Homo sapiens: one gene and its partners. The protein of the gene in region 2 interacts with the protein of the main gene of each other region in a pairwise test. Each region holds a gene or a part of one and is shown on either strand. Other genes may lie near its edges. The genes, in order: RACGAP1, TANK, INPP5K and COPB1.

The links.
Region 1: the proteins of TANK (region 2) and RACGAP1 interact in a two-hybrid assay, tested with the Homo sapiens proteins (one large-scale study listed by BioGRID and IntAct).
Region 3: the proteins of TANK (region 2) and INPP5K interact in a two-hybrid assay, tested with the Homo sapiens proteins (one large-scale study listed by BioGRID and IntAct).
Region 4: the proteins of TANK (region 2) and COPB1 interact in a two-hybrid assay, tested with the Homo sapiens proteins (one large-scale study listed by BioGRID and IntAct).

Annotation. Positions count from the first base shown.
Region 1 is NC_000012.12:49,991,526-49,994,518, reverse strand, and holds part of RACGAP1 (rac GTPase-activating protein 1), read left to right. Parts: intron 1-9; coding exon 10-105; intron 106-189; coding exon 190-388; intron 389-1,863; coding exon 1,864-1,969; intron 1,970-2,141; coding exon 2,142-2,274; intron 2,275-2,385; coding exon 2,386-2,521; intron 2,522-2,993.
Region 2 is NC_000002.12:161,229,856-161,233,432, forward strand, and holds part of TANK (TRAF family member-associated NF-kappa-B activator), read left to right. Parts: intron 1-1,115; coding exon 1,116-1,696; intron 1,697-3,577.
Region 3 is NC_000017.11:1,496,778-1,499,622, reverse strand, and holds part of INPP5K (inositol polyphosphate 5-phosphatase K), read left to right. Parts: intron 1-1,500; coding exon 1,501-1,687; intron 1,688-2,819; coding exon 2,820-2,845. UniProt on the Homo sapiens protein: Inositol 5-phosphatase which acts on inositol 1,4,5-trisphosphate, inositol 1,3,4,5-tetrakisphosphate, phosphatidylinositol 4,5-bisphosphate and phosphatidylinositol 3,4,5-trisphosphate.
Region 4 is NC_000011.10:14,459,338-14,461,814, reverse strand, and holds part of COPB1 (coatomer subunit beta), read left to right. Parts: intron 1-483; coding exon 484-629; intron 630-1,517; coding exon 1,518-1,607; intron 1,608-2,477. UniProt on the Homo sapiens protein: The coatomer is a cytosolic protein complex that binds to dilysine motifs and reversibly associates with Golgi non-clathrin-coated vesicles, which further mediate biosynthetic protein transport from the ER, via the Golgi up to the trans Golgi network.

The DNA of each region.
Region 1 (2,993 bases), on a different chromosome or scaffold from region 2:
TTTTTCCAGGGAATGCTGGCAGACTTTGTGTCCCAGACTTCTCCAATGATCCCCTCCATTGTTGTGCATTGTGTAAATGAGATTGAGCAAAGAGGTCTGACTGAGGTAAGAGTCAACTGTAGGAGATGGTGAATTTGTTATTTGTGTTAATTCGGAGGTTTTTAAATAAAAATGTCATCTTGATAATAGACAGGCCTGTATAGGATCTCTGGCTGTGACCGCACAGTAAAAGAGCTGAAAGAGAAATTCCTCAGAGTGAAAACTGTACCCCTCCTCAGCAAAGTGGATGATATCCATGCTATCTGTAGCCTTCTAAAAGACTTTCTTCGAAACCTCAAAGAACCTCTTCTGACCTTTCGCCTTAACAGAGCCTTTATGGAAGCAGCAGGTAAGGGCAGATGTAATACTTGAATATGAATTCCTCCACGGCAGTAGTTTTTCTTACTCTCTTTATTTTTTTATTTATTTTTTATTTTTTAGACAGAGTCTCACTCTCGCCCAGGCTGAAGTCAGTGGCGCAATCTCAGCTCACTGCAACCTCCGTCTCCCAGGTTGAAGCGATTCTCCTGCCTCAGCCTCCTGAGTAGCTAGGATTACAGGCGTGTGCCACCATGCCTGGTTAATGTTTTCTATCTTTAGTAGAGATGGGGTTTCACCATGTTAGCCAGGATGGTCTCGATCTCCTGCCCTGTGATTTGCCTGCCTCGGCCTCCCAAAGTGCTGCGATTACAGGCGTGAGCCACCGTGCCCAGCCTCTTTTTTTTTTTTTTTTAAGACGGAGTCTTTCTCTGTCGCCCAGGCTGGAGTGCAGTGGCGCTATCGGCTCACTGCAAACTCCGCCTCCTGGGTTCAAGCGATTCTCCTGCCTCAGCCTCCTGAGTAGCTGAGATTACAGGCGTTAACGGTGTTATACCATGTTAGCCAGGCTGGTCTCAAACTCCTGACCTCAGGTGATCTACCCACCTTGTCCTCCCAAAGTGCTGGGATTACAGGCATGAGCCACCACACCTGGCCACCTTCCTCTTTTTATTAGCTCCTGCCTAGTACAATGCCTGAAACATAGTAGGTGCTCAAGTAGTTTGATGGATGAGTAACTGTATGCGTGTCACCCTTGCCTATCCTCTTGCTTTCTCATTACGTTATTGTGTACAGTGTTCTTCCTTTCTTTCCTTCCTCTCCAGTTAGGTTGGAGCTTTTTCAATTCTTAGAATATACCAAGTTTACTCCCTACCTTAAGGCCTTCACATTTGTTGTCTCAACCTGAATGCTCTTACATTAGATACAGTATGGTTTGCTCCTTTATTTCTTTCATATTTCTCTTCATATACCTTGTCCCCAGAAACACCTTTCCTGACAACCTTGTCTAGATTAACAGCTCTCATTTCTTTCTAGCTTCTTGCCTGCCTTGTTTTCTTCATTTATGTATCACTCTACCTGATAGGTATTTGCTTTTTGACTGACTCCACCAATAGAATGTAGGTTCCATAAGATAAGGGCTTTGTTTACTTCTGCTTTATCCTCAGCACTTGTACCTGGCACATCGTAGGCCCTTAAATATGTCTCATGAATGAATACCTTCTTGGTAATTGTAGTCACTGCAATTGTATGCCTGTCTGCCTAGCACATCAGTTGCCAACTGCTTTCCCTAACTGCAAAGGCCGATTTTTTAAAAGTTTTGACTTCTAATATTGAGCTGTTGGCCAGTATCCTGCTTGTTAATGAAACTAGAGTCTGATGTAGTCATGAACTAATCAGGAGTTTCAGAAGCTTACTGTATAGATGAGACTTTGTGGTCGATAACTTGGAAGCCCGCTGTCAAGGGAAAGAAGTCTAGGCCTCTTGGTGCTTTCTTTTCAATTACAGAAATCACAGATGAAGACAACAGCATAGCTGCCATGTACCAAGCTGTTGGTGAACTGCCCCAGGCCAACAGGGACACATTAGCTTTCCTCATGATTCACTTGCAGAGGTGAGTACAGCAGAAACTTGTTCTGGGAGTTAGGGAATTTTTTTCCAAGGGGAAGATAATGTGGGTTGAGTGTTTGGGAGTATGAGGGATGAATTGTTTTCTTATAGAATTTATATTTTGGTCTGCATTTAAGCAAGGAGCAAGACTTCTAATTTAATATTCTTTTGCTTAGAGTGGCTCAGAGTCCACATACTAAAATGGATGTTGCCAATCTGGCTAAAGTCTTTGGCCCTACAATAGTGGCCCATGCTGTGCCCAATCCAGACCCAGTGACAATGTTACAGGACATCAAGCGTCAACCCAAGGTAGGCAGGTGCGTGTGTGTGTGTATGTGAACTTGTGTAATGTGATAACTTGAAAGACAGTTGAGAAGCCCTGAGCTTTGGAAGTTTGCTAACAGATTTGCTGGCTTTTAGGTGGTTGAGCGCCTGCTTTCCTTGCCTCTGGAGTATTGGAGTCAGTTCATGATGGTGGAGCAAGAGAACATTGACCCCCTACATGTCATTGAAAACTCAAATGCCTTTTCAACACCACAGACACCAGATATTAAAGGTAAGGCCCAAGATGTGCTTCTTCAGGGACTTGACTCTCTCTTTAGTTTTAGTCATATGACCTCTTCCTGCCTTTGCTAGAGCTGTTTGAAAATTCTAACATTAAAGGAAAATTTGTATAATTCTACCATCGTAATTTTTTTTTGCTTTTCCATGTTCTCCTTTCTTTATCCATATGGATATATGTTTTTTAAATATAGATATAATAGGCTGGGCATGGTGGCTCACACCTGTAGTCCCAGCACTTTGGGAGGGAGGCTGAGGCGGACGGATCACAAGGTCAGGGGATTGAGACCATTCTGGCCAACATGGTGAAACCCCATCTCTACTAAAAATACAAAAATTAGCTGGGTGTGGTGGCGCATGCCTGTAATCCCAGCTACCAGGGCGGCTGAGGCACAAGGAATTGCTGGAACCCAGGAGGCGGAATTTGCAGTGAGCTGAGATCCCGCCACTGCACTCCAGCCTGGTGA
Region 2 (3,577 bases):
AGTGCCTTCTTTAAGGGACATTGTGGAGCTTAATTTGGCTTTTTCTAGTGTCTCAGAATCATCAACATGGAGAGTACTTTGATGATTGTTTTTTTGTATTGAGCACTCATTGGCCCTATACTAGACTGTAGTGTTTTCTAAGTTCTTATATCAGCTTCTTTGTCTTTCTTATCTCTTCCTATGCTTTTAGCTCTTGTTGATATCTATGTCTGCCTTTAGCAACTCATACTCCCTTTTAATTTGCTGTTTCAAACCAGCTATGAGCTGTGGAAATACCACCAAGTTTGTTAGAATAAATCTAAAATGACAATAGGAACAAAATTCATCTATCTATGAACCTTGTGGCTCTAATTCTGGCTCCTCAGAAGCTCTGTTTTCTTTCTAGCTTTTGACTGTGTCCTACAAAGCTGAATTTGTTGGATAAGTGGTTCTAGATAAATGAGCTACAGAGGCCCTTTTGTCTACCAGATATTTACCTGTTTTTTACAGAGGTCTTTTTTAAAAAAAGATATAAGATGATAAAATAATCTATTCATCCACAGTTTTCTTAACATGCATCACAATATTTCATCCTTCCTTTGCCTTCACTGTCTTCTTTTTCCCAACTCCTGCAACCACCAGTCCCTCACATGGATTATTGAGAGCAGACAGTGGCTAAACTGATTAGTGATATACTTAGTTAGACAGTGACATTAATAATAAATGACCTAATTTTAGATATACCTAGTAAGATTTTCCCTTTTAACAACTTATTTGTCTAAGCAAACTCACAGTTATAGCTTCCGTTACTGACAAAATGTTTAAATGTATACACTACAAGCAAATGTTTTTCAAGTGTGGAGCAGTGTAACTGTGAACAAGATGCAAAGCTTACGGCAGAAGACTTAGGAAAAGACAAAGTAGTTAAATTGCGACTAATAAGCTATGTTTCAGTTCACCCGCTGGAGACTGCTAATATTCTGTGTAAGATGGTAGCAAATTTTAAAATCCCAGTTGTCTTCATTTGCTATAAAAACCAATAGAAAAAATAATAATAATCTCTCCAAAGCTGATTGAACAGATTTTTTTAATGATTTGAATGCGGCTGTTTCTCTTTTGTGTTCTTCTCCCTCCAGAAACACAGTGCTCTGTGCCTATACAGTGTACGGATAAAACAGATAAACAAGAAGCGCTGTTTAAGCCTCAGGCTAAAGATGATATAAATAGAGGTGCACCATCCATCACATCTGTCACACCAAGAGGACTGTGCAGAGATGAGGAAGACACCTCTTTTGAATCACTTTCTAAATTCAATGTCAAGTTTCCACCTATGGACAATGACTCAACTTTCTTACATAGCACTCCAGAGAGACCCGGCATCCTTAGTCCTGCCACGTCTGAGGCAGTGTGCCAAGAGAAATTTAATATGGAGTTCAGAGACAACCCAGGGAACTTTGTTAAAACAGAAGAAACTTTATTTGAAATTCAGGGAATTGACCCCATAGCTTCAGCTATACAAAACCTTAAAACAACTGACAAAACAAAGCCCTCAAATCTCGTAAACACTTGTATCAGGACAACTCTGGATAGAGCTGCGTGTTTGCCACCTGGAGACCATAATGCATTATATGTAAATAGCTTCCCACTTCTGGACCCATCTGATGCACCTTTTCCCTCACTCGATTCCCCGGGAAAAGCAATCCGAGGACCACAGCAGGTAACTGTTTTGCATTAACAAATATATTATTATGTGTGAACACACATTTTGCCATACATGCACAGATATGCATCTCTTTTACGTTATCAAACATCCTTTTTAAACTACTGACAGCCAAAGTTAAGGCTTTCAAAAAAACAAGTCCCATAATAAATGACATGAAATTAGAAAAGCTGAATATGGTAAAACTTTATTGGAAAGTACCTTAGAATTTATGTCAGATTTAAAAATACATGTTAAGCCTTATCCATATCTGTCGTGGTGTCACTTTCTTAGTTCCTTATTCAAAGCTTGTTTACTCAGGATTAATAAGAATATTAAATTTCATAGTGTGAAACAAATGCTGTTTTATTTAATAGTTTGTGTATATCATATTCATCTTTATAAGAATTCAAGATCTTTCATAAGTAAATAATTGCATCTTACATTTCTATTTATCAAAATAAGTGAACTATCTTTCAGTGAATACTTCTACTACATCTTCAGTTATATAGTACACAGATCTGTAGGGTTTAGTTTGGTTTTGGTTGCTAATCTGGAAATGAACATGTAGCCTAGTATATTTTTTAAATAGTCTCTGCATGTGTATGATATCAAATATTTTATTTAATGTTTCTAAAGCTCACAGACTAATATCCCCCAAACCACTCCTGCCCTCCCTTTTAGATTCAAATTCTATCACAGAATGATTCTTTTAGTTAAAAAAAAGTTTAATGTCTGAAAGCAAATGAAAACTATATAATTTTTACAAAAAACAGAAGCTTATGAAAATACAGATTGATGTAAATGTCTATGTAACTTGCAAACATTTGTCTGATTTCTCTTTGCCTTGAGATATTTAATTTTTTTAAAAAAGTTATTAATACCCTTTTGCTTTAAGTACACATATAGGTTATAGACTTAAATCAGCACGCAAAGAAGGCAGTTGTCAAGCTGTGGTATATTTTAGTAGTGGGAAGAACTAGGCATGGCTGACAATAAGTTTTAATTATAACCTCACTTATGTTCTTGTTCATTGTACTTTATTTCACATCATAGTCTCAGTTATAGTTGCTACTAAATGAAACAAATTAAACAATTTCATTTATTGCAAGTAGAATTCCTGTGGAGCTGTGAAGTGCATCAGTTCTAATGCTTGTTACTTTTTTCTCTATTATATGTCTTGCTTGTTCTTTTACTAGTCTGTGCATTCATGTTTCAGTAGATGGCACCCTGCATTGTACATTTGCTTTCTATACTACAGCAAGGGAAACAGCTGGTATGTGATTACAACTTGATGGAAAAGTATTCAGCTTAAAAAATTCAGGAGAATTAGTGTTGAGTTGTCACAAGACATGGGGCATAAGGTTAGATAATTGATATTTTGGCAGAAAAAGCAAAGAAATTAGTTTGTTTTGAAGACCATGTTACAGTTTAGGATGGAAAGAATATTTCTTAAAATGAGTTTTTTAAAAAAAACCTTTTAAGCTATTTTATTAGTATTAATAAAGCTAGTATTATGCAAGCTAGTATAAGTACAAAGCTAGTATAAGTACAAAATTCCTGAGTTGGGCCAGGTACGGTGGTTCATGCCTATAATCCCAGCACTTTGGGAGGCTGAGGCAGGAGGATTGATTAAGCCTAGGAATTTGAGACCAGCCTGGGCAACATAGTAAGACCTTGTCTCTACAAATACGTATAGTTATATAGATATATGTAGCTGGGTGTGGTGGCTTGTGCCTGTGGCCTCCAGCTACTTGGGAAGCTGAGGTGGGAGGATTGCTTGAGCTAGGTAGTTCGAGGTTGCAGTGAGCTGTGATGGTGCCATCACACTCCAGCCTGGGTGACAGAGCAAGACCCTGTCTCAAAATAATAATAATAATTTTTTTTTTAAAAAAATCC
Region 3 (2,845 bases), on a different chromosome or scaffold from region 2:
TGGTCAACTTCAGTTACCTAGAGGAGGAATGCATTTTGTCTCCGGAGCGTATTACCTTTTCCAAACCCCTCAGGGAAACTGGCAAGTGAAGAACAGGTGGGAGGTCTCTCAGTCGACTCCTTTTTTTTTGGAGATAGAGTCTTGCTCTGTCGCCCAGGCTAGAGTGCCGTGGTATGATCTCAGCTCACTGCAACCTCCGCCTGCCAGCTTCAAGCAATTATCTTGCCTCAGCCTCCCGAGTAGCTGGGATTACAGGCACCTGCCACCATGCCTGGCTAATGTTTGTACTTTTAGTAGAGAGTCAGGATGGTCTCGATCTCCTGACCTCATGATCCACCCACCCTGGCCTCCCAAAGTGCTTGGATTACAGGCGTGAGCACCGCGCGCGGCCTCTCAGTCGACTCTTGAGAGGAAATCATAAAGGCCAGTGTGCATGGCGAGCTCGTTTTGCACCAAGCACTGTGCTAAACATTTTATGTACTTTATCTCATTGACTCATCCTAGCAACCCTTCATGGTAACTACTGTTATTCCCTCCACTGGCAGGCGAGGAAGTTGAGGCCTGAGAGAGGTTAGTTTAGTTTGGTGGTTAAGAGCACATGCTCTGTGGTCATGCTGGCTGGCCCTGAATCCTGGCTCCACCACTTAGTACCTTGTGACTTTGGGAAAGGTGCTTCCCCTCTAAGCTAAGTCTCAGTTTCTCCACCTGTAAAGAGAGCATGATACACCCAGGCACAGTGGTCCATGCCTTCTAATCCCAACACTTTGGGAAGCTGAGATGGGAAGATCCTTTGAGGCCAGCAGTTCAAAACTAGGCTGGGAAACATACTGTCTTTACAAAAAAATGTTTAAAAATTAGCCAGGCATAGTGCCACGCACTTACCGTCCCAGCCACTCAGGAGGCTGAGGTGGGATCGCCTGAGCCCAGTAGTTTGAGGCTACAGTAAGCTGTGATGTCACCACTGCACTCCAGCCTGCATGACAGAGCAAGACCCTGTCTCTTTAAAAAAATAAAATTAAATTTAAAAAAAGGTGTGGTAACAGTACTGATCACAGGCATCCTCTGGTAAGCATTTCCTAAATGCTTCCCTTCCCTTTCCTGAGGCATACTTCTAGTATGCAGGGCAGCCAAATACAAGCTCAGGTGTGTCCAGCCTCAGAATCTCAAACCTCAGCTGCTTTGATCCACTGCTGCTTTTGCTCAAGAAAGAAGCAAAGCTTTGAAATGGAATGTTTCTGAGTCACAATTTGATCCATAAAAACATGAGCTAGACATACAGAGGGTCCTGGCTAAGTCTGACAAGTGCTGGCATACTTTGGATTCTGTTAGGCACCTTCCTGCCTGCTGCCTTGCTCCCTCCGGCTCTGGCCCCGGGGGTCTGTGGCTGCCAGTAGTTGCTGGAGTTAGGGGCTCCAGCAAGCTCATGTGGGCTCATTTCTGCTCTTAGCCAACCCTTTCTTCTTTCCCCATTCTTCCTCTTTATGCCCCCTGCCCCTGCAGTGAGAAAAAACGCAAGCCTGCATGGACCGATCGCATCCTGTGGAGGCTGAAGCGGCAGCCCTGTGCTGGCCCCGACACTCCCATACCGCCGGCGTCACACTTCTCCTTGTCTCTGAGGGGCTACAGCAGCCACATGACGTACGGCATCAGCGACCACAAGCCTGTCTCCGGCACGTTCGACTTGGAGGTGAACTTCTGGGCTGCCTGATACTTGCCAGAGGAATAGCTATGCTGGCCACATCCCCAAGCCCTCCATCCCTGGATTCGAATGTCAGCCAGTCCCCCAGGGGAGACCTGTGGAGGCCATGATTGCCTTTCCTGCCAGGTCGGATATCCCAGCTCCTCTTAGGAGCCGTTGATGGCTCTGTCTGTCAAAACCGTGTTCAAACCCTTTGTGAAAAGGTTTCCATTTCCTTTGGGTATTCTCCCTTGGGGCTAATGAGTTCCATTAGGCTTATTACCCAATGTGAGAAGTAGGACTTCTTTTATTTGTCCTAAATCTATCTGGATCAAGTTGCAACGGGCGCTCCCTCCATCCCTGCGTCCTTGTATCTTGCTATCTGAATGACCAAGGTGGTGTTGGCCTCCTTCAGGCTGCTGCCCCTCAGCCTTCACGTTTTCATACAGGTTTACTGGCGTGTGTGTGTGTGTGTTAGGGTCTCGTTCTGCCGCCCAGGCTGGAGTGCAGTGGCGGTATCATAGCTCACTGAAGCCTCCACCTCCTGGGCTCAAGTGATTGATCCTTCCACCTCAGCCTCCCTAGTAGCGGGACTACAGGTGCACGCCACCACGCCTGGCTGTTATGTATTTTTTGTAGACACAGGGTTTCACTATGTTGCCCAGGCTAGTCTCGAACTCCTGGGCTCAAGTGATCCTCCCAAACTGTTGGGATTATGGGTGTGAGCCACCGTGCCTGGCCCCCGCTGGTATCTGCGTTGTGTTCTTGCACGTTCACAGCTGTTCTCACCAGAGCATCCCCCCATGTGGGGCTTTGGGTCAGATAAGGCGGGAGGCCTGAGAGCAGCTGCCTGGCCGCCTCCTTAAGCCTCTCAGCCGTGCCTCTGCTCTCCGCCATTCCTACCCCCCAGCGCTGGGCCCCATGGGATTCCGACAGGGCCAGCCACCCGCCGACTGGTGTTCGGCCCTCTTTCCTGATGGCCAGCCAAGGTCCGTTGGAGCAGCCCAGTGGAGTTCCATGCCCACCCCCTCTGGGTGCCCCACCTTCCCCACTATGTTGGAAGGGCACAGTGAGGAACACTTGGCCTCAGAGGAGGGAATGATGCTGCGAGATTCAGCCCCCTTCCCACCCCCGTGTCTAGCTGAAGCCATTGGTGTCTGCTCCGCT
Region 4 (2,477 bases), on a different chromosome or scaffold from region 2:
GGGATGACTAATCTTGTATCATTAAGTAGTATGGGTCAGCAATATTTATTCAAAAGTATTAGTTAAGTACCTCCTATGGGAACATCGTCCACTTGTATATCTGCTGCAGTGCCTAGTATGCTGCAACTGCTATGTAAGTACTCACTGAATTGAATTATTTGTTTAACCACAAAAAACAAAGTGTGCCTGAGTTCGAATCCTATCCCCACCACTTATCAGTTGTGTGATCTGGAACAACTTACTTAACTTCTCTGCTTTCATTTCCTCATATGTAAGATGGAAAATAATAATACTATCAGAATTGATGGGAGTATTAAACCAGTAATATTTATAAAGCATGTAGAATAGAGCTCTGTACATAATAAGTATTATATAAACAATCTTATTGTTAATAGTGTAGTTCTTTGGATATTTGGATATTAAGATTTTTTAAATTCAAGTTTGCCCCAGTGATTGCGAATCTTTTTGTATATGTAATTGCAGTTTATGATGTCTCTGGAGCAGCAAGTGACAGAAATTGTGTGGTTCTCAGTGATATTCACATCGACATCATGGACTATATCCAGCCTGCAACTTGCACTGATGCAGAATTCCGTCAGATGTGGGCCGAATTTGAATGGGAAAACAAAGTTAGTCCTTGGGAGATTTTCTCATATTCCTTTATCTTTCTTCCTTTTGCCTGCTGTTGAGGAGTCTGCTAATAAAATTAATCTCGCTAAAAAGTGTTTAACATGAAAAGCAAATAGTCTTTCAGTATCTGTTCTTGCAAATTAGCCTTAACTAAAAATCATGTAAGTAGTTTGGTAATTTGCTGTTATAAATTGATTAGAGTAGCAGTTCTATAGCCAATCTGATAGGTTTAGACATTATAGGTAATATTCCATCCCTTCTATGTATGACCAAGAGCTTACCATTTAATCTAGTGCCCGAAAAAGGCTTTACAAAGTTCATGGTCTGTTGAGGAACTTTGTCCCTTTGAGCCTTGACTTTTATTAGAAATATTCTATATGAGGCTGGGCACGGTAGCTCGTGCCTGTAATCCCAGCACTTTGGGAGGCTGAGGCAGGCAGATTGCTCGTGCTCAGGAGTTCTAGACCAGCCTGAGCAAAATGGTGAAACTCCATCTCTACAAAAAATACAAAAATTAGCCCGGTGTGGTAGTCCCAGCTACTCCGGAGACTGAGGTGGGAGGATCACTTGAACATGGGAGGTTGAGGCTGCAGTGAGCTGAAATGACGCACTGCACTCTAGCCTGGGTGACAGAGTGAGACCCTGTCTCAAAAAAAAAAAGAAATATTCTATATGCTTCATATTGAATCTCTGTGAAGTTATCTCTATTGGGAAGTACTGATACCAACCTACAGCTTGTTGGATTTTATAGATGTTATTTAGTTTCTTGGTGTCTACTCTTTCCAACCTAAACAGTTGGAACAAGTTTTTAATATGACATACTGGTGATTCACAGCTTTCTCATAGTAAGATTTATGATCTCCTTGACTTTTTTTTCCTCTCTACAGGTGACAGTTAACACCAACATGGTTGATTTAAATGACTACTTACAGCACATATTAAAGTCAACCAATATGAAATGCCTGACTCCAGAAAAGGTAAAATTTGACTAGGAAATTCAGAAATCTGATGGAATGGTAGAGTAGGTTCCTGGCCTTCCTGTATTTCCTCTAGCACATTTTTGTTATTCAATATGCAGTACCATTCTAGGCTATCTAAAAGATGTTATCCCATAGAATGTTGGAATCTGCTTACCTCTTTCTATTGGACTATACCATCCTACTTTTTCCTAGTGCAGTGACCCAACTGAATAGTCAGATTAATTTTTTTTTTATTTTCTTTTCAATCTTCTCCCCCATTCAGCTAGAGGCACATTCTAAAGTAGTTTATGCTGCACATGGTGGTTCATTCCTGTGATCCTAGCACTTTGAGAGGCTGAGGCGGGCAGATCACTTGAGGTCAGGAGTTTGAGACCAGCCTGGCCAATATGGCGAAACCCCATCTCTACTAAAAATACAAAAATTACCCAGGTGTGGTGGCACGTGCCTGTAATCCCAGCTACTTGGGAGGTTGAGGCAGGAGAATCACCTGAACCCCAGGGGGTGGAGGTTGCAGTGAGCCGAGATCACACCACTGCATTCCAGCGTGGGTGACAGAGTGAAACTCTGTCTCAAAAAGATAAATAAAATCGTTTATTTGTAATACTGGATTAGAAAATGTCCATGAGCTCTTCCGTGGGCTCTGATTGTTGGTTAAAATATATGTGCTCAAATACAGAATCGTTGTTATACTGTGACTTTTTGCTATGTTTGTGTATGTATGAAAAAAACGAGAGAGAAAGAAAAATGAAGCTGGAGCTCTAAGGAACTTTTTTCTTTATGTAAAATTTCTATAATGTTATAATATTCATTTTATAAATAAAATAATGTCTGCTACCAAACAAGTAGGTTTTAATTTATATATTAGTT